Regions from separate parts of the Homo sapiens genome. Here region 1 is linked to region 2. Evidence: fine-mapped expression QTL. A gene starts in region 2. The other region holds a variant in brackets. All regions are shown on one strand. Distances are between the middles of the regions. Region 1 overlaps TARID (TCF21 antisense RNA inducing promoter demethylation). Region 2 holds the start of TCF21 (transcription factor 21).

Region 1 (12,085 bases), 39 kb before region 2:
ACCTGACGTAGCAGCAAATGTTTCACAAATCTGTGACCTCTAAGAAAAGAACTTCTTAAAACCAGGTTTAGCCATGTAGCCATGTGAACCTGGACTCATGACCTCATAGCTAGGGCTTCAGTGACCTCATCCATAGGATGGAGGAGAAGACTTCCCTAGCAGCAGCTCCAGAGTTCTTTATAAGATGAGCACTCAACAATTCTTGAGTTATGATCATCCTCCCCACACCCAGTTTCAACTCTCAGATGAGGATGTGGCTTCTGACTTAACTGCTGACAAAGTATAAAGTGTACCTCAATCTATCAAGATCCAGTGTGGCTAGCTTTCTATACTCAATTCCACAACATGAATTATTTTTAAAATTTATTGTACTTATAAAATCAATTAAGATTCACTGTAGAAAAATTACTGAATACAGATATACAAGGGAAATCTCCTTAAAAACCACCAAGTACCTTGATGTAGATCCTTTTAAATCTTTTCCTACGTGTATATTGTTTTTAGAAAAATGACATCATATCTAATGCATTTTTTGTAGCCTGCCTTTTTTACTGAATGTATTTACTCAATAAACACTGATTCTTTAGAGAAGTAGAAATATAATTCTTATAAGATTAATTTCAATTCGGGCTGGGCACAGTGGCTTACGCCTATAATCTCAACACTTTGGGAGGCTGAGGCACATGGATCACCTTGAGGTCAGGAGTTCAAGACCAGCCTGGCCAACATGGTGAAACCCTATCTCTACTAAAAATACAAAAAATTAGCCGGGCATGGTGGTGCACACCTATAATCCCAGTTACTTCTGCCTCAGCAGACTGAGGCAGAAGAATCACTTGAACCAGGGAGGCAAAGGTTGCAGTGAGCCAAGATTGTGCCACTGCATTCCAGCCTGGGTGACAGAGCAAGATTGTCTAAAAAAGAAAAAAAAAAAGAAAAAGATTAATCTCAATTCAGTTTTTTCAACATAAGCACAAATATGTCCAATTTGTCATGAGTATAGGGTTTAGGACTAAAAACACAGAACTAAACACCAAATGCAAAGCAATTCTTCCCAAAAAAATAGCTTTCCCCAAATCACTCAGTAATTTCACGATAGAATTCCCAAAATATTAAGAAATCTAGGACTATTACCCTGTAATAATAAAGCCCTCAAAATCTAAAGAAAGAAATAGATCAAAATACATTTATTATTGAGATGTAAGGACAAAGTATTGGAGACTATAAGTTAATAGTCTGAATAATGAATCTAGAGAAAATAGGAGGAAAACGATGGGGGTCACTGCAACCAATTCTGAAAATTCTAGAATGCGTATGTGATCGAACAGAGAAAAAATAAGTGCAATTCATCTATATTTATATATTTAGATAATATATAATATACATTAAATAGATTTAGATAATGTATTAATATTAAATATATTTGTTTATTAAATATATTTATATTAGTATTAATATATACTAAAGTATATATTAATAATATAAGTAACATGCAAAGTATATTGAACCCTCTACTAAATCTCTTAATTAAAACCTAACTGTTTTATTACTTTAGGATTCAACAGCTGTACAAATTTAAGTTCACATTTTCCTGGAGGACTTAATTAGTGAAATAAATGACTAGCAGACTAATTCATAGTAGAGAAATAAGAACTCGGCATTTTGGAATGTGGTATATTTGTTGAATCTCCCTCTGTTCCTTGGCCTTCTCTTGCAAAGTCTGACAATGTTACAAAAGTACATAGCCAAGAGTGAGTGAGGCACAGAGCAAATGTGAAAAACTCTCTTCTATTATACAACAAGACAGTGAAATGTTTTTCTTAGAAAAAAATTCTCTCCCTATCAATAGTCCCAAATACTAATGCAGACTTTATTTCCAAATAAGTTTCTTATGTCAATCTGTTTTAAATAAATTCTGATCACTTTAAAAGCAAAACTTGGGAGAAAATTACATGTTAGTAGGTTTGATCTGTTCAATAGTCTCACAGTGTACTCTCAAACTTGGGTGAACCAGGATTAAGTTCCAGTAGTCTTACAAAAAAAAAGACACACAAAAATCTACTAAAGATGCCATATCACTAGTCTTATACTCATAATGAGAAATTATTAGGCCCATCCAAAGATGATAGAACTTTCCATATTTTTAGTCGCTTCATGTTTACAAGTCACAGATAAACTTCCCTGCAAGGCATCCTGTTCTCCATTCCTGAGATTAAATAAATCAATAATAGAAATCATCTTGCAATACAGATGCTTCCTTCCCCAACCGAAATATTCTTATAAAAATTTAACAAGAAAATTTTCAAACATCTCATAATGTTGTTTTTACAAAGCAACTGTTAGTTATAAACAAGTCTTTTAGGTCTCAAGGAGATTTAAGATACTTCAAAGGCTTGATCTAAACCCTCTAAATCCAGGTTGCTTTCACATATTTTCTAAAACATAGTATGTTAAATTTAATGTTTGAAAAAATGTTTTAAGTGTTTTGTTATGCACTGGAAAAATTTAAACAGATCTTATTCTAAGAAATTAGCATTTTCTGGAACTTCCATTTTTACTAATTCCTTTCTTTACAAAAAATAAAGAAGCAAGTACTGTTTTTCTGTAAATGTTTGCAAACTTATTAAAGAAATAACACATCTCATCTACCCAAGGCAGTGTACATTAACATATTTTTATGTACATTTAAAAAAGAAATTCCTCACAACCTAGTTGTTGCAGATGTTCCTCTTGGTGACTCTTCTTATCAGGAGAGAGACTGATCTGTCTTCTTTTAGTATATCCTATAGGTCAGTGGCAAGAAAAAACAAATAAAGGCCATTTTAATAATTATTAGAAGCTTGTACAAATATTAACTACAAAAACCTGCTATTCTGAATTGTTCAGTTAATATTGAATGATACATAATTTTTTAATTCTGACTGAATAATTTATAAAAACATACATAGTGGTATTTTTTTAAACTAAAAGTTATAGTATACATTTTTTTCCTGTCAGCTTTAAGTGATGGTGTAGATTGGGTTCACCCTGACAGGTTTGGGTTATCTGAAATAAAAGTCACAGTTTCTTAGGGCGGCATTTTTTATTTCATAAGAGTGATTCAATTGAACTGAATAATTTCTCAGCTTTCCACTGTTCTTTCCTAGGAAAAAAGAACTGTATACAACAATAATTTATTATTTCTTGTTTTAGTACATATTTTGAAAGTTTTACAACCCAAAGGAACACAGATAACTCTTTAAAGTTCCATTTCCTCTGAAATAAAACAATGTGTAGCTCTTACCACCAGCTGGACATATTTCCCTCAATTTCAAAATAAAAGAAGAAATGTTGGTCTATTTGTTATACTTGTTATTATTTCTGTTTATCCATGCAAAGTAGCAGAAGTTTAAGAGGCATTCATTTATACCAATTTTGCACAATGAGATCCTGTAATCTTTCCGTTGTATGTGTAATGTATAGAAGGTGTTCATTACTTAGCATATTGAAGAGGCAACCATTGAAAAAAGAAAGATAGTCATATTATGACATTTAATCAGAATTGAGTCATGGTTATAATTATCTGTTACTTTATGCTTCCTGAATTTCCAAATTGTTCCAAAATAGATTAAATATGCATATTTTTAAAAGAAGGAAATTAGAATAATAGTTTTTAATGTTCCAAGGACTTGTCCATTGATGTCCTAGCCCATCTTTTAAATATACAAAGACAATAAAAACACAGGAGTAATAGAAACCAAAGATATGAGCTCTTTCCTTGAAGGAAAAATTATGTAATTGATTTTCAGTTGATATTTTGTAAGGATTGCTGCTAAAAGAATACTGTACTATAGTGAAAACTGAGTTTATTCTGTCTCCTATTACAAAATTAACAATTTAATAATTTTCTTTCTGTTTATTCTTCTAACAATCCTAAATATGAAATTTTATTTTGAGCACTATGTACCTAATTTTGTTAGTTACTACAGAGTGGCAAGTTCAAGTTCTTTTATATCTCCTTTTTTCACACACATGTGCACACACAAAAGCACAGAGTTGTATATCTGAACGCATAGTAATTATTCAAGCAATCATTGGACATTTACTGGGCACTCATGCTTTTAGACAATAATAGAGCTCAGGTTCCTAAAGTGAGAAGATCAGTGTTTATGACAGTTGCTTTGTCCTCTGTATTTTCATCAAGATCCAGCCCCCACCCATTAACACAGAATCTACAAAAGAATTAAACTAAAACATTTTAAATTCCCAATGAGATACGTGCTCATCTTCCAAGTATTCATTCCCTCTTCCCTAGAACATGAGCCTTAATGCCTGTATAGTAAAAGAGCCCAAACTGTTTAACTGTCCAGGTAGTAATAATAGTAACTTGTATTCTTATAGTGCAAGGAAACAAGAGAGAAGATGATAAAATGCAAATTTCCTAATTAGATTCAAAAGTCCATGATAAATTTTTTCTTCCCTCCTGCAAAGACAACAGACATCTGGATTTTATAGTATATTTATTCCATCATTCATTCTCTTATTTATTCACTTATCTTTGTGTCTTTTAACTGGAAACCATTAGACAGTCTATACAATGGTTTTAGAAAGTGATTTGCATACTACTAATGTCAAAATACCTATAGTTTAAAAAGACACATGCACATGTATGTTCATCACAGCATTATTCATAATAGCAAAGACATGGAATCAATCTAGATGCCCATCAATGGTGGACTAGCTAAAGAAAAAGTGGCACATATATACCATGGAATACTACGCAGCCATAACAAAGAATTAAATGACCTTTGCAGCAACATAGACACAGCTGGAGGCCATTATCCTAAGTGAACTAATGATGCAGGAACAAATAACCAAATACCACATGTTCTCACTTATAAATGGGGGGTAAACATTGAGTGCAAAGAGGGAAACAACAAACATTGGGGCCTACTTGAAGGTGGAGTGGGGGAGGAGGGAGAAGTTCAAAAAACTACCTTTTGGGTACTGTGCTCACTATCTCGGTGACAAAATCATTTATACAACAAATCCTAGCAACATGAAATTTGCCCATGTAATAAACCTGCACATGTATCCCCTGAACCTAAAATAAAAGTTGAAAAAGAAAAAAAAAGGAAACATAACCCAATTAATTTGGCTTAAAAGAGTTACAATACCAAAGTAACTTTGACCTCCCTAGAAAATTCAGATGGAATAGTTTCTATCATATTAAATATCCACCAACTAATTTATAGTGTTTGTAAGATGCTATGCATTTATAAAAATCACAGAAACCTCTTTTGAACACTGACTGTTCATTTATAACTTTTCATCATTTTTTTCAAAAGTCATTATTAAAGAAGTGTTTGTTTTCACACACACACACACACACACACACAAAGATTAATTACTGTATTCTATTAGTTACTGTATTCTATTCTGAGGACAGTTTGTCAAGATGCTACTTGTCCTGTGATGTGTAAATAACATATTTATGTTATAAATTGCTACTTGTCCTGGGATATGTAAATAACATATTTATGTTATAAATTTGTGTCATTAAGAAGATAAATATGCACAGCTATAAGAAATATTAAGTTTATTTATATCCATGAAAGAAAGTCAGGTCTCTTTTCTTGCAAAGAAAATTGCTAGAGAATAATTGTGCAATGAAGAATCCTATGTCTGGTGTGCCCAAGTACATTGTCAAATAGTTCCGACATTCTTCATTGCACCAAAGAACCTTCCTACAGTATTCAACACCCAAATATCCTTGGTTCCATGTAGAAGCACACTTGGAACCAAGCTTTCCAACACTTAAGGGAATGTTTGCTGTGTAGAGTATCTTTTGAAGTGCTAGTCAGGACAAAACAGTAAAAAGCTTTAGCCATTAAGATGTCAACTGAGTGAAGTATCCTCACCTGAACTCCATACTGCAAGAACCATGCTGCCATGTTTAAAATTCTGACTCAGACAACTAACTGTACCCAATTCCAAAACACACTTCTTGCCTATACAAGTTTTTAAAAAGAGACTTCAAGGTAAGGGATAAAGCTTGCATCAAGGCTTAGAACATAGATGCATTTAATCAAGATCACACATGAGAGAAAGGGAATTGGAAAGCTCTAAAATCCTGTTGAATCTTATTGCATTAACTGTACAGCTTACACAGTTCAGGAAAGCCCATGTTCTCTTTCAAACAAAATATAAATACTGGATCTGGATTGCTGAGATTATAAAAGAGTCAATGACATCTTTTTCAGGGGTTATTATTTTAACCCTGACGCCATAGCTGCCTGAATAACTAGAATCTGTCTAAGATTCTTTCTTGCTAATTGAAAGAGATCTACTTTATTTTATTTGAAACATTATATATGTTGAGATTTTTGGCCAAGCGCAGTGGCTCACGTCTGTAATCCCAGCACTTTGGGAGGCCGAGGCAGGCGGATCACCTGAGGTCAGGAGTTCAAGACCAGCCTGGCCAACATGGCGAAACCCCATCTCTACAAAAAATACAAAAATTAGTTGGGTGTGGTGGCATGTGCCTGTAGTCCCAGCTCCCTGAAAGCTGAGGCAGGAGAATCGCTTGAACCGGGGAGGCAGAGGTTGCAGTGAGCTGAGATTACGCCACTGCACTCCAGCCTGGGCGACAGAGTGAGACTCATCTCAAAAAAAATACAAAAAACAAACAAACAAAACAAATGATATATGTTGAGATTTTTGCAAAAGTGTTGCTGATCCTACCAAAGTAAGTTTTCTGAATTATCTGCAATTATTAATGTGTATTAACTATGTAGTAATAACCACTAGCTCTATAATTAACTCTGCGCAATGTAAACCTTAATTCAGTTGGAATTACATTCGTTATTTCAAAGATAGTGAACTGCTGTGTGCTACAGATCATGTTCCATGTAATTTTTGAGTTCCAAAAGGTCTCAGATAGTCTAAGAGGTGCTAGGTGAATCTGTGTAATAAATAACACTTTTATAATATCCTAAAGCAGAGATTTTAATAGCTATAGTTGGAAATCAATAAATATCTGTTGGATGAATGTATAACCCCTTTTTACAGAGAACATGTATAAGTGTTAACAGCCATTCATACAATCCAATATCATACCATGTTATGTCCCTGGAGTTCTACTTTGGAAACATTAATTGTTTTAAAATACATGGTGAGCCAGATTCGTCACC[A/G]TTGCAAGACAGAATACCAGAAGTATTCTGCTAAACCTCCTAAAAACACACACACACAAACAAAAACAAATAAGCCTGCTGCCATAGAAATTAGATATTCCTTGATAGGATCAAACCAAAAAAAAGGTTAAAGAAGCTATGCTTACCAAATGGAATAGAACACTACCTAAAGTGTAAGATGCATATTCTATGGGAATACAGATGCTCCTTGACTTAAGATGGGAGTTACCTTCCGATGAACCCATTGTAAGCTGAAACTATCATAAGTTGAAAATGCACTTAATACACCTAATATGCCAAATAGCATAATTTAGCCTAGTCTACCTTAAGTGTGCTCAGAACCCTGACATTAGCCTACAGTTGGGCAAAATTATCTAATGCAAAGCGGATTTTATAATAGAGTGTTAAATATCTCATGTAATTTATTGACTACAGTGCACTGTGTAGTATCTGTTGTTTACTGTTGTGATCGTGGCTGCCTGGGAGCTGCAGTTTGCTGCCACTGCCCAGTGTCAGAAGAGGGTATCCTACTGTGCATTGCTAGGCCAGGAAAAGATCAAAACTCGAAATTCAAAGTGTGGTTTCTACTGAATGTATATTGCTTTCACACCATTGTAAAATTGAAAAATTGTTCAGTTAAACCATTGTAAATCGGGAGCCTTCTGCATAGGAATTACAATAGCAAGCATCCAAGAGTTAGGGATTAGCAGAATCAAAAAATAATCATCCAAATTGTACCAGATGGAAAGTCCATAAGCAAACATAGTTAGTTCCTAACACTTGAAAGTAACTTAATTTGGTTAATTATATTAATTTGCCTATCTGCAAACAAAACAAATATTTTTCTGTTTTCTAGATCCCTTGTTTCCAACTGGTTCAAATAAATAGACAACTCTTCATTCCGATGGTACTTCTTAGAGATAAACCACATGCATGTATCAGAGAAAACAACTCTCAGCCTGGTAAATGAACAGGAAAAACTTGGGTTAGAATTCTATTTCTTTCAAGGTAGAGAGCAAATTTTCATAATCTCACATGGACATACAGACCAAGCCATGCATGGCACTATCTACATAATCAAGGCGGAGAACACAAAAACTTGGATATGAATGTTCACAGCAGCATTATTCATAATAGTCAAAAAATGGAAACAACCGAAATGCCCACCAACTGATGCATGAATAAACAAAATGCAGTGCATCCATTCAATGGAATATTATTCAGCCATTAAAAAGGATAAATTACTGATACATGCTACAACATGTATGAACTTCAAAAACATATGCTAAGTGAAAGAAGCCAGCCATCAAGGACCACAAATTGTATTATTCAATTTATATGAAATTCTAAAGTAGGCAAATCTGCAAAGACAAAATAGTTTAGTGGTTGTATAGGGCTGGGGTCAGGAGAGGAGAATAGGAGTGACTGCCAGTGAGCAAGAGGTTTCTGGTGAAAACATGGAGAGGAGGCTTGAATAATTATCTGAGGTTAGATTTGTTATCTGGAGGCACCATTACCTACTTAATTTCCTACACAACTCAAATTCACTAGAAAACTACTGTTGGCTGTACTTTTTTGATAATGTAATTCCTGTATTTCAAAACTGTTTTTAAGGGTTTTCTTAATCTCTCCCTTAAAAAACAAATACTGAGACAGTTACAAAGTAAAATACACTTTTTAAAATTTTACTTTCAAAAGAAGATAATCAAAAGTGATACAATCATCACAATTGGCATTAAATTATTGTTTTGATCTTAATATTTTATTCCCCATTCATTTGCTGTTCCTTTTTGTCTGTTCTAATGCTATAATAACTTACCTCAGCTTTAACAAAATGAAACTTTGTTTTCATGCTTTATTAACCTGAAGCTAATAATTTTACCTTAGGTGTTATCAAAAAGTGACTTATTTTTAGGATGTTAATATCTCAAACAACAGTGTTATGCTCTGCCACCTACCAAACTCTGGAGTGAGAAAATCCAATCAGTTTAACCGACCTTGCACAATTAAACCATCAAATACATTCCATATGCGGGCTTGTTGGCTCGTGCCTGTAATCCCAGCACTTTGGGAGGTCGAGGCAGGTGGATCGCTTGAGCCCAGGACTTCAAGACCAGCCTAGGCAACATGGTGAAACCCTGTCTTTTCTAAAAATACAAAAATTAGCCAACCGTGATAGTGTGCTCCTGGGAAGGCTAAGGTGGGAGAATCCTTGAGGCCAGGAGGTTGAGGCTGCAGTGAGCTGTGATTGCACCACTGCACTTTAGTCTGGGTGACAGAGCAAGACCCTGTCTCAAACAAACAAAAAATCTATAATGGAAAACTTAGAAATCTAATTGGATAATCCTAAGAAACTCCCTCCTGCTCCTAGTTCCTCCCTCAAGTTCTCTAAAAGGTTCAGGAAACAATTATAACACTGACATCTAAATGTAATTTGTAAAGTATTTCTTATGTTCTCCCTGGTATTCTCCTTAAAATCATCCTAGCTTTCCCAGAACCTAGACAATATTGTCTTCTAGTTAAAATTTTCATATGCTGATGTTTTCTGCCATTTCTGTTTGGCAGAAAAGCAAACTGGAAAACTTGATAAACAAGAAAGACCTCAAGTAACAAAAATTATATGTCATTCTTGGCTCAACTAACAGCTCCAAACCTCTGAAATGTGGTAGATCTTTTTCCAAAGGAAGATCTTACTAACTCTCAGTGTAAATCTGTACCTTAACTTTATCACTGTTTAAAACCCATCTCTAAATAACATAGGCCAAGATCTCCAAAATCGATAATGGGGAAACTGCTCAACAGCATTCCAGAAGTTCTTAACCATAAGAGTGATGCTATAGTAGAAAGTAAACCGTGAGGCATCATGCATCTTGACTGAAAATTCCACCCCACACCCACTGAGCTAATCTGGAGCCGCCATAGAAGACAGGGAAGTTGGAAGTAGAGACCTTTGCGTAGGCCATCACCCCTCGCCATCAATCAAAAGGAATTCTGTGAGCTTCTACTGAGAGCCTAGAGCTCTGGTCAGCAGCACAAAGACAGAGCCAGGCAGAAACAACTCCAGAGCCACACCTCCTCTGAAAGACAATTGTCAGGTGAGATTTTCAAATAAAACCACTGGGGATTATCCACTATCTCCCCAAGAAATTCAAATGTTTAGAAATATAAACACAACACATACTTTTTTTCAGTATTTTATAAAGTTCAACAGTTTTGATGATAATCACATGTATGCCAAATGATTTGTAAAGTGTAAAATTTGAAAAAGATCAGATATTAAATAACAAATTGAATGAGAAAATACGACAACAATAAAAAAAAGTTTTATGAATGGACTACCAGTTTTTGCTTTTTTGAAAAGAAATATTACAATAAGGTTATTTGCTCAAATAAAACCTACCTGACACTCTTGCAAATGTTTAGGGAGGGAAAGTGTGTCTCCCTTTATATTTACTGTTTCTCTCTGAAGCCAATTTCATTTTTTTCAACATCCTGGCCATCTGCATTCATATAAAGTGGTTATTTTCATGGATAATTCACCTTATATATGAAATATAAAAGGTATCTGGAATAAATTCATTGCAAAATTGATGTTACCTGTTAAATCTTCCTAGTAGTTTGTTTTCACCAAAATAAAATGAGTGAGATTTACTGCTTTCCTCTGATTTTTTTTCTACTTCAGTAACAGTTTTAGAAGCAAGTGAATAATTATCTTTTACTTTAGATATCTTGAAATTTGCTTGAAGTCATTCTGGACCCCTTTACAAAAGCTACCTGCGGACCAATCCTGGGGCTCATATTAATTTTACAGACGTCGGGCACCCAGGGTTGCCCCGAGTAGGGGAGGGTGGAGTGCGCGATGCCACGTGTAAGTTAGCAATCATCGGCTCTATTAAAACGGTTCCATATCTTCCAGCCCCGCACTCATGATTCACAGTAATGCCTAGTGTTAGCACTCACTAATCGACAATTTGATGGGGAAGGTGAGGAGGAAAACGACCCTGGAAGCAGAGTGCTGGTTTCACACCCGCTGGGTATCTGTTACATGTGAATTTCCTCTGGCGCCAGCAGGTATTTTGAGCAGGCATCTAGAGGGATCCCAGAGGGGAAAGATGGGAGTGCGTAAGATGGAGCTGTAAGCCTGCGGATCAAAGCTTTAAATATCCCAGAGGAAATCGGTAACATCCGGATTGATTGGCCGAAGGGGTTTAAGTGGAATGGGGAAGATAATTCGAATTTCTGAGGTTTAGAGGAGCAGGGGAAGAGGGTGGAAAGGTAGGGAGTAAACAAGATCTCAGAGGAGAGCCCACATTAGACAGGCGCACATTGAAGATGGGAGGCTTTACCCTCGCTTTTAGCCCTGGGAACCCCAGAGGGCAACTCCAGTCAGCAGATAGTGCCAGCGTGCAGGGGATGGGCTGCGACCGCTCCCAGTGACCCCACGAAACCCAGAGGGGAGGCTGAGGCTCTGAGGCCAGCCAGGGGAGCTGACGATCTCGCAGAAGCCGCGGCGAGTCTCCCCCGGAGGTCTAGGAGGCAGAGCCATTAAAGCCAGGCTGCCCGCTGAAACGCACAGTAAAAGTGACTGCGATTTATTTGGATTAGTCAGTATAAAGGTCTGGGGAGACAGCTATTTATTCGATACGGGACCTTGACAAATTGGGCAGTGCAAGAAAGGACAGTCCCTCTGACCTCAGGCGGTGCTGGGGCGGAAGGTAGGAACCTCCCACCTGCTCCTGGCCCCAGGGGGCGCGCATGCCCAGCGGGAGCGCATCTTCACCTGCGGACGTGAGGCTGCAGCGCTGCCGGCCCCAGCCAGCCAGGGTGCCCTCTCCCGGCTTGAGGGGTTCGTATTGCTGCCTCCAGGCCTCCAAGGGAGATTTCCGCTCACTCTCTGGCGGCACCTTCTCCCC
Region 2 (12,085 bases):
GGGGGCTGAGTAATTTTTTTAAAAAGATAAAAGATAAAATATCCATCCATTCATTCATTCATTCTTTCATTAATTCAACAACTATTAAGTACATATTATATATTAGCCCTGCTTTAGGTTCTGAGTACACAACTGAGCAAGACACATCAAGTCCCTGTACTCGCGAAGCTTTCATCATAGTTAGAGAGGGGTTGGCAGAGAGATAATAACAAAGTAAACAAAATTTTAAAAAATAATAATTTCAGAACATGGTAGTTTAAAGTGAAGGCTCAAGAGTCAGATTGTCTGTGTGTTAGTCCAGACTCTGGCATTTATGCACTGTGGTAACCAACTTCCAAGGATGGCCCCCACTCAACCCCCCACCGCCCCCACTGAACCATACCTCCTGGTATTCATGCTCTCATACAAGCCCTGCTCTTCAATCTGGGATGGCCCCAGAACTCACTTTTGACCAGCAGAATGAAGCAGAAGTGATGTTGTGTAACTTCCAGGGCTAGGTCATAAGAAGACTTCTGTCTTGCCTCTGGGTCTTATGGAATGCTCACTCTGAAGGAAGCTGGCTACTGTGTTAGAACTTCAGCCACCTAAGATTGTCAGGTTGAGGAAGCCACATGGAGACGCCGTCTGGAGAGAGATGCTGGCCCAGAACTAGCTGCTCCTGCCATCCCAGCTGAGGCCTGGATGTGTGAATGAAGAAGTCCCCTTTGATTTCAGCTTGGTCCAGCCTTTACATGACTCTAGCCAGGTAAGATGCCTTCTGGCTGCAACACCATGACAGTCCCCACATGGGAACCACCCAGCTGCTCAGTCAACCCATAGAACCAAGAGAAATAATAATAACTTAAGTCACTAATTTGGGTATTACACAGCAATAGACGACTAGAACACTAATTTTATGAACTAAAGAAGTTTGTTAATTTATCTGTGTTTCAGTTTTCTCATCTATAAGGTTCCTACCTTATAAAGTTTTTATGAGGGCTAAATTTGTTAAACTGGAAAGGGCTTTAGAACAGTGCCTGGTATGTGATAAACAGTAAATGTTAGCTACTGCTTTTTATTATTAATAAATAAAATAGAATCATGGAACAAAACTATTCTTCATTGGATGCTCAGAAAAGTTCTCACATGAAAATGACAGTTGAGCTCAGACCTGAAATCTAAGGGCTCAGCCATGCAGAGAGCCGGACAAAAACATCCAAACTGGAAAACCAGCAAGGCAAGGGTCCTGAGGGAGGAATGGGTGTTGTGTCTTGGAGGAGCACAGACATGGCCGGCGTGGTTAAAGGGTAGCAAGCAAACCAGTCATACAAGCCACAATAGGAAGTGTGGATTTTATATTAAACACAATGAGAAGCTTTAAGAGATTTTAAGCAGGGGAATGACTTGAACCACTGTATTGGCAATAGATTTTAAGAGGACAAGAATGGAAACAAAAAGACCATTTAAGAGACTGTTATCATCTGAGTGACTTTAGTGACTCGATCCGGTGTTTAGCAGAGGAAATGGTGAGAAGAGGGCAGATTTGGGGATATGTTAGTTGAATGAGTGGCCCTCGGATGGCCCATCAGGTTTCTACGGTAGAGATGAGATTTTTATTTTAACAAAGTCCTTCTGGCGATTACGTTACTTAAACCATCTTAGACAGGGTTCTAAGCATTATATCCCAGGACAGCTCAAGTCTATCTCATTTTGTATAATTTCGGGATCAATGGTTACATATTCTAAATAGGGAATAACAGAATAGAAGCTTTCTCACATTTACTATGATTATTCAAACAGCAAAAACCATTCATGGCAATGTGACTCAGTGGAAGGAATAATACGAGGCAAATCAGGACACAGGGTCAGGTGGGCAGTACTGTCCCTGATACCTCACTGGAACAGAGTTTGTGATTATTTATGGCCTCCTTGGTCCCCAGCCCCATCCAATTCTGACAAACTATTACTTTGTGTCTCTATTTTAAACTGCTTCATCACCTGGAAATATTTCATCTTCCTAAAGTCAGGATTCACACTCAGTACTTTCCTGCTGGTCCTAAGATCTAAACCCTGCAACTCTTGTCTCCTCAAAGCTGAAAGCACCTGCCACCAGGAAATAATCCCAAAGAGGTAATCACCCGAAGGAGCCTTTGATTCCAGTGCCCATACTCTCCCAAGCTGACAGGAAGGAGGCTGACAGCAAGTTGGCCTGTATTGTTTTATGCCCATCAATAAACTATATTTAACATATAAGTGCATTACAGAGGTCTCCCATACAACCTAGAAGATTTATTCTTTTTGTGAAAGCTTGGGAGGTTTTGCTTTCAAGCTTTATTTTAAGATACAGAATAGTCATCACTCAAGCCAGTTTTTCTAAAACTTTATTACAGGGGAAAGCCTCTGGCATACATTTCTAATACACTGTTCATTTCATGTGGCAGCTCTTTCTTTAGTAGTGCCAACAGAAAGGAGAGAAAATACATGAAATGAGAGAATGGAGGCAAAAGTCCCTGCATGGTACCTGACTCAGGAGTCGCTCAGTCCTTTTCTCTCTCTTTCCTAACACTGACAGGGTCTAATAAAATTATTCTAGTATTAGAAAACTTAGGAGGACATTAAACTGGCTTTGCAAAATTTTTAACTCTCTTTGTCTGCCCGAGTTTTCTCTGGCCCACTTACACCTTAGGGTAAATTCTGACTTTCAAGTGCATAGGCTTGGCTGCTTTCAAAGCTGTATTGTGGAACATGTGAAATGCAAGATTAACTCCTGGATTCAAAGAACCATGCAGAATCTTTCCCTAGACTTTATTGTTGTTATTTGCCACCTTTAAATCTTAGCAATGTGGCATCTTATCTACAATTCACTGAATTAAATGTGAAAAGAGGGGGTTAAGGTATAGTGAACACGCAGAAGACTTCTAATTACTGAATGGATTTATACCATCCAGGATTTATACCATCTCCCAGCTGGTGCCAGGTAAAGGTAGCAGCAATACCCAGCATCACTGTTATTGACCTTCTTAGCTAGCCACCAAGCTCACTAGTGCCATATTCACTTTGGCTGCCAAAATATAACAGGACAGCACCACTATAATTTAGAATGAGCAAAGAGAGGTAATGCTCACTTTATTAAATAAAGTTAAAATTTAATGAAACAAAGTCAGAGTTTGATAGGCATATAAGCGGGAGATAGACAACAGTCAATCAGCAGCAAACAAAGTATATGGAGATAATTATGTAAAATCAAAAAAGAGGCACCTGGCTGGGCACGGTGGCTCATGCCTGTAATCCCAGCACTTTGGGAGTCTGAAGTGGGTAGATCAGGAGTTTGAAACCAGCCTGGCCAAAATGGTGAAACCCCACCTCTACTAAAAATACAAAAATTAGATAGGCATGGTGGCAGGCACCTGTAATTCTAGCTACTCGGGAGGCTGAGGCATGAGAATCTCTTGAACCTGGGAGGCGGAGGTTGCAGTTAGCCTAGATCGTGCTGATGCACTCCAGCTTGGGTGACAGAGCAAGACTCCATCAAAAAAAGAAAAAAAAAAGGCGTCAACTTTTTTTTGCATAGAAAGTTGGCAAATATTTGAAGTGGTGGTAGTTACCATCAAATAAAATGAATAAAACATCTGGAGGTGCTAATTAGAAATGAAGAAAAAAGAGAATGGGCAGTTTTGCCAATTTGCCAGCCTGTGTCTCCTGACCAAATGATGAGGAGTAAGAGAAAAGGATTAACATTTAAATTTAAAGGCATATTTTTCCCCTGAGAAAGATTATGTAATGGCATATGAAGTCAGTTCAAAGGAAGCCTATGATGTTTTCCTTCTCATAAAAAAGGAAGCAAATTATTCCATCCAAGTGCAACTGAATCAAATTTGAACTTCCTGTAAATGTATCAGCTGATAAACCAGGATTTAAGTTCAAGGGTACATTCCATGCCTAATCTTCATTTTACAGCTTTCAGAGATAAAATTTCCTTAGCACTAAAATCTTTCAAAGATAGTCTCTCTTGCAAAACAAATTGTTAGAAGTGAGCAGCAAATTGGCCAGATGCCTCTGGGGCATAAATGTTTCTTAAAAGTCAGGTAAGAACTTTTAGAAATGATCTCATACTTTCAAATCACGAGTTTTCTATTTCGTGCTTTGGAACAGAAATGGTCAACTTACCAAAAGGGTTAATACAGCTTCTCAAAAGTGCTTGTCTTCTCACAGAATATAGTTTATATTTTGGGAGAATTTGGCACAGCTTAAGTTACAGCTTAAATGACTTGCTCAGTAGAATCCAACAAGAAGTCATTTCTCCCACCCATTTGTCCCTAAGTGTTTATTAGCAGGGATAGACACAAAATTTTAAAAGAAAAAAAGTATTTTTCATATGAATATTCTCTCTCCAAGACTTCATATCAAGATACATAAGCAACAGTATTCTTCGACTCTTACTCCCAAACTGGAAGCCATCTTTTACAGAATTTTAGAAACACTCCAAAATTTATTATCAGCCCACTAGCCTTTCTCAGCCCAAATGTCTTACTGCAAGATAAATGGACATGGGACTTAATTATTTCTTATATGGCTATGAAGAAAAATAATTGCTAAGCATAAAAACCAGCCTATGACATGAGGCTAGTTTTACATGCTTCCAGAAATTGGTACTTTTAAGTTTCCAACATTGAAAAATATACAGACAACAGAAATCTTTTCAGTGGTACATATTACTATGATTTTTACTATCTCCCCAGACAGCCTGAGCAGTCCATTAACTAAGGTGTAACAGAGACCCAGAGCCAAAAAGAAAAAAAAATGGCTCCAACAAGAAAAATCACAGCTTAATGTATGCAGTAAGGCCATAGTTTGGATTTATAATAATTATCACATTCCAGAGCCCAAATTAATTATTTGTAGTTATTTTGCAGATATCTTAGTAGCTACACACACACACACACACACACACACACATTTCACAAAGTATTGGCCAATGCCCATTTTCACATAGCTCTTTAGTCTAAAAATAACTTTAACTTTCATGTTTTACCAAGACTGAGAAAAGGGAGAGCAAATCAAAGGAAACTAGTTGAGGAATTAGTGAAGAAATTTTTAACAGGCCTGCTGGGTGTTCTCTCACTGCTGTCTTGAACCTCAGATTAAATTATTATACTTTCTGTGTTGTAGTACTGGGTCATTCGTATGTGAAGACAAAGGCAACTTCAACTTGATATTTCTGTCATCCCTGCTGTGGGAAGAGTCCTTTTCCTGGTTTATAACATCAATCATTCTCACAATAAATCTTAGGGTGGATGTGGTCATTTAAATCTCCACCTGCACAAACAACAGAAAATAAGAGAGCTCATAAATCTCTACACTGGTGATTAACAAATTTTGGATCCTCAGCGAAGATATTATGGAAGAGGGGTCGCTAATTCATTAATAAAGACTGATTTGCTGACAACCTGTTTAGTTTACAGCATAGGGGGAAAGCAAACAAGACCCTGCTAGCAAAACAAAACGTTAGAGGTTAGTGAATTCCCAGCTGAGCCTAGGATTAGAGATATGATATCTTAATGTAGGAGAAGCCTTCAGACCCTAAGCCAACCACTCAGAAACCACTCTTACATTTTGCTCCAGCCCCTCAACTTCAATGCCTACCTGCAAGGGAAGAAAACCTGGCAAAGAAATTGTAAGAGAGATTTATGCCTTCAGTCTCCCTGGTTTCATTGCACCAATTTCATCCAATCCCTAGGTTCTGTTTCCCTGTGCTTTTTCTACCTACTTCCCAGGAGACTTTCTTATTCTCTAGGAAAGGTGGTTCGAGCTGGGGTTAAAGATGGAAAAGAACCTTTCTCAAAAGGATAGTCTTGCTTTGTGTTGTGTAATGTCAGCTTCATGTGAGGAACACTGGCACCTAACAGGCTGGAAGAAGACAAAGACAGCAGCATTGAAAGGGACGGTGCATCACAAAAAGTGCCAGGCAAGGTGATGTCTGAGAGCAACAAAGACTCTCAAGGCAATATTAAATGCATTTCTAGAAAAGAAAAAAAAACCGAGGGGAAAGTTTCCATTTATTAGGAAAAGATGATCAACTAACATAATGTTTTCCACACACTCATACTGCCCTCTCATTCCCTACCCACTCCCACTAAGCTGTGTGTGGTTGGGTTTGAGTGTGCAAATCAAGTATGTTTGTGTACACGTAGGCAGTCCTTTGATGTCTTGAAAATGACCAGGTGTAGGTGAAATGTTTTATACTTACTTTTCCATCACCATAAAGATTCTAGGAAGCACTTGTCTTCATTTATCCCGGGGAAGGTGGAAGATCTCGGTAAAGCCTTGGAGTCTTATGAGGTGTTGGCAGGATGCGGTTGATACTCCCTGTATTTTAATTCGTGTTTTCTTGGGAGGAGAGAGGGCATGGAGTGTAGGTGGAAGGCCCAGAAAGAGCCAAACGATCTAGTCGTTTTTCTAAAGTTCTCAGTAACAACCAGTTGTGACGTCTTAAGAGAGAAAGAAGGCCTTTTACAGATGGACAGAACATGCTGCTTCTCGGCCCCGGCCACAGTTGGGAGAAGGTGGCTGGTAAGTACATGATGCAGTTGAGTTGATTTACATTACAAGTTGCAAATCAGGGTCTGTGCATTGAGTTTCCCTCCGGTTGTGAAAGGGGTCTAAGCGCTTTGCTGGGGCCTGGCAGGCCCCTCCCTGGGCTGCAAGGATCCGCCCCTCTATTCCCCAGATAAATTCCTAGTGTCCACCAAATTCCTCAGCGCTCGCTCACCCTCCTCTACGGCCACGACTCTGGGAGTGGGGAAACAGAGAGCCGGTTCCTCTGCTGCAGAAGTCCTCGGGGTTCCTTCTCACAACTCTGCGAAGGGGAAAGGGTTGTGAGACCCAACCAGACCCCAACTCCAGCTCCCAGCAGGAGGTGGCTGCGCCACACTCGGGAGGCCTCTTGGTTTCAGGGTCTCTCTGTCTCTCTCTCACCCTCTTCCTCGCTTTCTCTGTCTCTCTGTCTCTCTCTCTCTCTCTCCCTCGTCCACTCCCCCAAACATGTCCACCGGCTCCCTCAGCGATGTGGAGGACCTTCAAGAGGTGGAGATGTTGGAATGTGACGGGTTGAAAATGGATTCGAACAAGGAATTTGTGACTTCCAACGAGAGCACCGAGGAGAGCTCCAACTGCGAGAATGGGTCTCCCCAGAAGGGCCGCGGCGGCCTGGGCAAGAGGAGGAAGGCGCCCACCAAGAAGAGCCCCCTGAGCGGGGTCAGCCAGGAGGGGAAGCAGGTCCAGCGCAACGCCGCCAACGCGCGAGAGCGGGCCCGCATGCGAGTGCTGAGCAAGGCCTTCTCCAGACTCAAGACCACCCTGCCCTGGGTGCCCCCCGACACCAAGCTCTCCAAGCTGGACACGCTCAGGCTGGCGTCCAGCTACATCGCCCACTTGAGGCAGATCCTGGCTAACGACAAATACGAGAACGGGTACATTCACCCGGTCAACCTGGTGAGTGCTCCCGGGGCTGCAGCTGCAGTCCAGGCGCGCCCGCACTCCCGCCTGCGGTGGGCGCGAGTGCGCGCGGGGCTGGGAGTGGGGGTGTGGGCGCGGCGGTGACTTACACATCTCGACCACCGCGGGCCTAGAGCCTCCAGGGACCGGAGGCGGGCGGTCTAGACACGGCCCTCGCTCTCTGCCCTACCAGCCCCCGGAGCGGGAGTGATTTATGCGAGGGTTTGACGTGGCAGCCCAATTAAAAGTTTGCAAGTGTGTTGAGCTGGCACAGAGGAGGGATCCCCCGCTCCCGCTCCATCGCCATCCTCCCTGGGGTGCAGTGGCTGCTGCGGAACTGAGAACACTGACAAGACGCTGCGAGCGGACAGGCATTTTGTTAATCCTTTTTTCTTCTTTTAGCAGAGAGTGGAACTTGATTTTCCTTTCCTTGTAAATAAAAACACCCAACTCCGTTTCTTTCACAAGCATATTTAGGACCATTGGATAAGGACACATCTATGCCCCCCAAATTGTCCACGTAAGCCCTTAACCGCTTAAATATTCTGTGCTTCTCCTATAAGTGGATTAATATTTTTAAATCCCAGAAGTTCTAGTAATGATCAGCAAAATCAGTAAATCCTCACTAGTATGAGTGTAATAAATACTAAAATAGGTCACTCTCACCCAAGATTTAAGAAATGTTACCTTTTATCTTAAAAAGTAATGCCCATTGAGCCTAATTTTTTAACACAAAAAACTGATAATCATTGAGTCTACTTTTTTCTCAAATGTATTTTACTGTTTAAGAAATATATCTTAATTTTTTTCATTTGATTTTATTTTAAAACTTCTAAGATCTAAAGAAAAACAATAACAACAACTTACTAGGATCTCTGTTTGTATATGATAAGAATGAGAGATTTTTCCTTTTAAAAGGCAAGTCTTATCAGCTAGCACTAGAGCAGTAGTGAGAGGGGTCTGAATTGTCTTCTCACCGAATTGGTTTCTGGAATTGCTGGAGAAGAAGATGCAAACCCACATTTTACCATGAAAAATGTTTTCTCTCCAATTGAAAGTTTGGGGTTTTTCCCCCCCAATGAGTAAATAGCTTTTTAAAATCTCCACCTAAAATGAAAGTGTTGCCTCGAATATTTACAACTGCTACTCTCTTCATCTTTGAATAAGAAACTTAAATGAGCTTTATTATAAAACAGCCCGGAGAAAGGAAGAGAAAGCATACTTTCTCAGTCCAGCATGAAGACGATCTTAAATTAAAAGTCAATGTAGTATAGCATTTTTTTTTCCTTAAGAGGTGGTGATTAATCTAGAAGCTGTAGTCAAAGCCGGTGTTTGCGATGGAAGAAACGAAAGTCGGACTAGGGAAATAGATGGTGATGAAAGGCGATGAAAGCGACAGGGCCCTGAAACCCGACCACCGCCTCAGAAGGAGGCCAGGAGGGCGCTTCGCCCCGAACTCGGTGCCCAGTAGGCACAAGGTCGTTCTGGGCTTCCCGGCTCAGACTGCCAAAGCGTCTGCCTCCAGGCAGTGCCACAGCACCACCCACTCTCCCACTCTCGGCTTGCCCGGGGCTTCCTGCATTGAGTCTCACAAGGAACCCAGTATAAGCCCTTTTGGCTCTCATTCTAAAAGACCACCACCAGCACCACCACCACCTCGAGCTGTGACTTGGCGCCAAAGCAGCTATTTGCTTTATGCAGCCGCAGGGTGCGCTAGGACCGGGAGTAAATTGCAGAGATAACCGGTCTCTCCAGAGCACCGCCTGCCCCCACCGCCCCCCTTCCTTTCATCTCAGGCCCCGAGTCCACCCCACCCCCTCCGCCACGGCCACTTACCTCCTCCACCCTCTTCTTTCCCGCAGACGTGGCCCTTTATGGTGGCCGGGAAACCCGAGAGTGACCTGAAAGAAGTGGTGACCGCGAGCCGCTTATGTGGAACCACCGCGTCCTGACCTTGGAGGTGCGAGTCTGGGAAAGGCGCGCTCCCGGGGGGAGCGGGCCCCGGGAAGGCGACCCCTGCCCTCAGTGCTCTCTGTCTCTGCTTCCCCCTCGCAATGCTCCTCTCTCTGTCCCACCCCGCGAGAACACTTTACAACGACGAGGAGATTCGTTTCCAAACCAGAGGAGATCAATTGTACTTACAAAGATTCCCATCTATTTAACTTTATTAACTTCTACCGTGAATGACTCTGCAAGCCTTGCTGGTCCAAGTGCAATATGTAATTATAAATATATAAATAGATAAGAGCCTATCAATGTATCTTTTGTACAATATGTTGTAAAATGTAGATCATAGGATAGCTGACTTTGACAGTCACATTTATAAAGTAATTCACTTAAAGATATATATTTTTTTCAAACAAGTTTTGCTACTTTTGAAAATAAATCTTTCTTTATATTGCTAAAAGCTCTGATATTTGGAGTGATTTTTAAAAATATTTGGAATAAGAAAGTGGGAAACTATGGGGAAGCTTGATAATGAAAATGGTTCTTTTAAACCTCAATCTAAACTTCTAGAGATAGAAGAAAATTGCATATGAGTTTCATAATGAAGATGCAGATTATGTTTTATACTGAAACCTTAAAAAAGAAATATATCGGTTACTTTTAAGGCTAATAGAAATTATATAACTGAAAACAAAGAATGGGCAGTATTAAAGTTATCCACAGTTATACAGTTCAAGAGTAAAACGCACCAGAAAAAGGAAATCCAATTTTCATGGATTCCACCGTATGACTGCTGACACGGGCGAGAAAGTAAACTCCACCTTTTGTCACCTTCCAGGTGTGAGCATAGCTGCAAACTAGTGAAGAAATAATAGAAGCTATGAAAGATGTAAATTCCATAACCCTTAGGGTGTGTTTCAGGATTTTCAAAGCTCTGCAGCATACATTATCTACATTTCTTATTAATAGTCCATTAATTAATTCTAACAATAAACCCGCATGCCTGCCTTTTGGTTGCTGTTAGCGGGTGCGTTTAGCTCCCGCCACGACTTCCGGCGGACTGGGTTTAATTTAAACATTTTCCAGGCTACGGAACAGCTCCTAAGGGAAGATTAAGTTGAGATAAACAGAGAAGCAAGGCCGAGGAGCCTGCGACCCGGCTCCCTCACTGCCCCAGCGCAGCCCGCGGCGGCCGATGCGCCAGATGCCACCGGGGCTGTTTAATGTTCGGGGTTATGACCGCAGTGTTTACAAGACGTCTTCGGTTATTTATACTGTTATTCCTCGCAGAGAGCCTTGAAACTTCCGCTTCATTTGCTCTTTCTTTTCGATTTTTTACCCTTTTTTCTCGGCTTAGTTTGGTACCTGGAGCGAGAGCTTCTCCGCCCTTCCACCAACCCCACAGGCCGCTTCGCGGGTGGAGCCCTCTGCCTGGCCATGGAGGAAGGATCCCGCTAGGCTGGTCCCGACTGGAGAAGCTGCTCTGCCAGGTGTGCTCTCTGTCAGCAATAGTGACCTCATTACCAAGGGGTGGCGACCACATTACCAAGCGCAATTCCCCATTCTCCAAGGGCTGAGAACTTCGGTGACTTCATCCACCTGTCTATTTGCACATGGAGGACTTTTCAAGATGTCAGGATACCCTTCCATCACCCCACCACCGCCACCCCAACTTGACTTTCAAGAACACATTTCAAGCTCTGGCCAGAGTCCCGTTCCTCAAATTCATGTGTTCTCTCCTTTCTACCAGAGGGATAGAGCCCATGCCTCAACCTATCCAGAGTTCAAATCAAAGAGTCCCCAGTGTGATTCAATTGATTGCCTTTCACGTTTCGCAAATTTTCCAATCTCCCACTCACGTTTTTACAAAACGAATGCTCTAAATTCTGAGGATTCCAGGCAGGCCATCCATAGAGAAATAACTTTTTCTTGCTCATTCCCTTACAACCCCAATCTATACATGGATTTTTAGAAAGTCTTCATGGCTATCTATAGTTCCCTACCAATAATTTGAAGCCTTTGCTTTAGGCAGGAGGCATGTGGCTATGAATAGGGAACACGTAGATTTGACCCTGGTTCTGCATCCAACTAGCTGTTTCTTGAAAGAGCCTGGATCCTCAGTTTTCCCATCTCTGCAAGCAGGGATAACGGTAATGAGAATGATAATAATCATTATATGCAGACCTTCCTCTTTCATCTTACAGAGGCTTAGTGAGGCTCAGATGAGATTATATCTGTAAAATCCCTTGGTAAAGGAAAAGCTCCGTGAAAATGTCAGTTACTTTTACTAAGTGGCGGGTAGTGAATTATCTGTGCCTAGACCCAAACTGAAAGTGTCTCAGGCAGGAAGTTCCAAGGGATGTATGTTTATAGCATCCAGGCAATGATCTTTTTTTTTCCACGAACTAAAATACCTCTTTTTGGTATCTATTGACTCTTTCTCTCTCTCTTTCTGTCTCTCTTTCACCTTGCACCTCTCCCTAATGCTCTCTAAATTTGTCCAGAGCTTTCTTTTTCCTAGAAATCCAGAGAGCAAAGTCAGAGCCTGGCACCTGCAGATAGGATAACACTGGTGTCTGATGGTGAGGCTGCCCAGTCCCATCAGGAGCCTCAGCCAAGGAGGGGCCTGGGCACACTCAGGTCCCCATGGTTGTCCATTGAATGG

Evidence for each region.
Region 1: its variant is fine-mapped to the expression of TCF21 in atrial appendage (GTEx, PIP above 0.99).

What each region holds. Positions count from the first base shown.
Region 1 is chr6:133,843,169-133,855,253 of GRCh38, forward strand. TARID (TCF21 antisense RNA inducing promoter demethylation) reads right to left here. Exons shown (of 9, transcript NR_109982.1): 2 at 2,709-2,783. It overlaps LINC01312 (long intergenic non-protein coding RNA 1312), which reads left to right. Exons shown (of 3, transcript NR_027030.1): 3 at 8,029-10,824. Among named protein-coding and RNA genes, the nearest start is that of LINC01312, 28 kb to the left of the region's middle. RefSeq lists an enhancer at 11,006-11,744. The variant A/G (reference allele first, on the strand shown) is at 7,173.
Region 2 is chr6:133,882,378-133,894,462 of GRCh38, forward strand. It overlaps TCF21 (transcription factor 21), which reads left to right and starts at 6,736. Exons shown (of 2, transcript NM_003206.4): 1 at 6,736-7,470; 2 at 9,336-9,880. The coding sequence starts at 7,021. The coding sequence ends at 9,425. It overlaps TARID (TCF21 antisense RNA inducing promoter demethylation), which reads right to left and starts at 6,629. Exons shown (of 9, transcript NR_109982.1): 1 at 6,227-6,629. RefSeq lists enhancers at 6,284-7,197, 8,449-9,213, 10,099-10,707.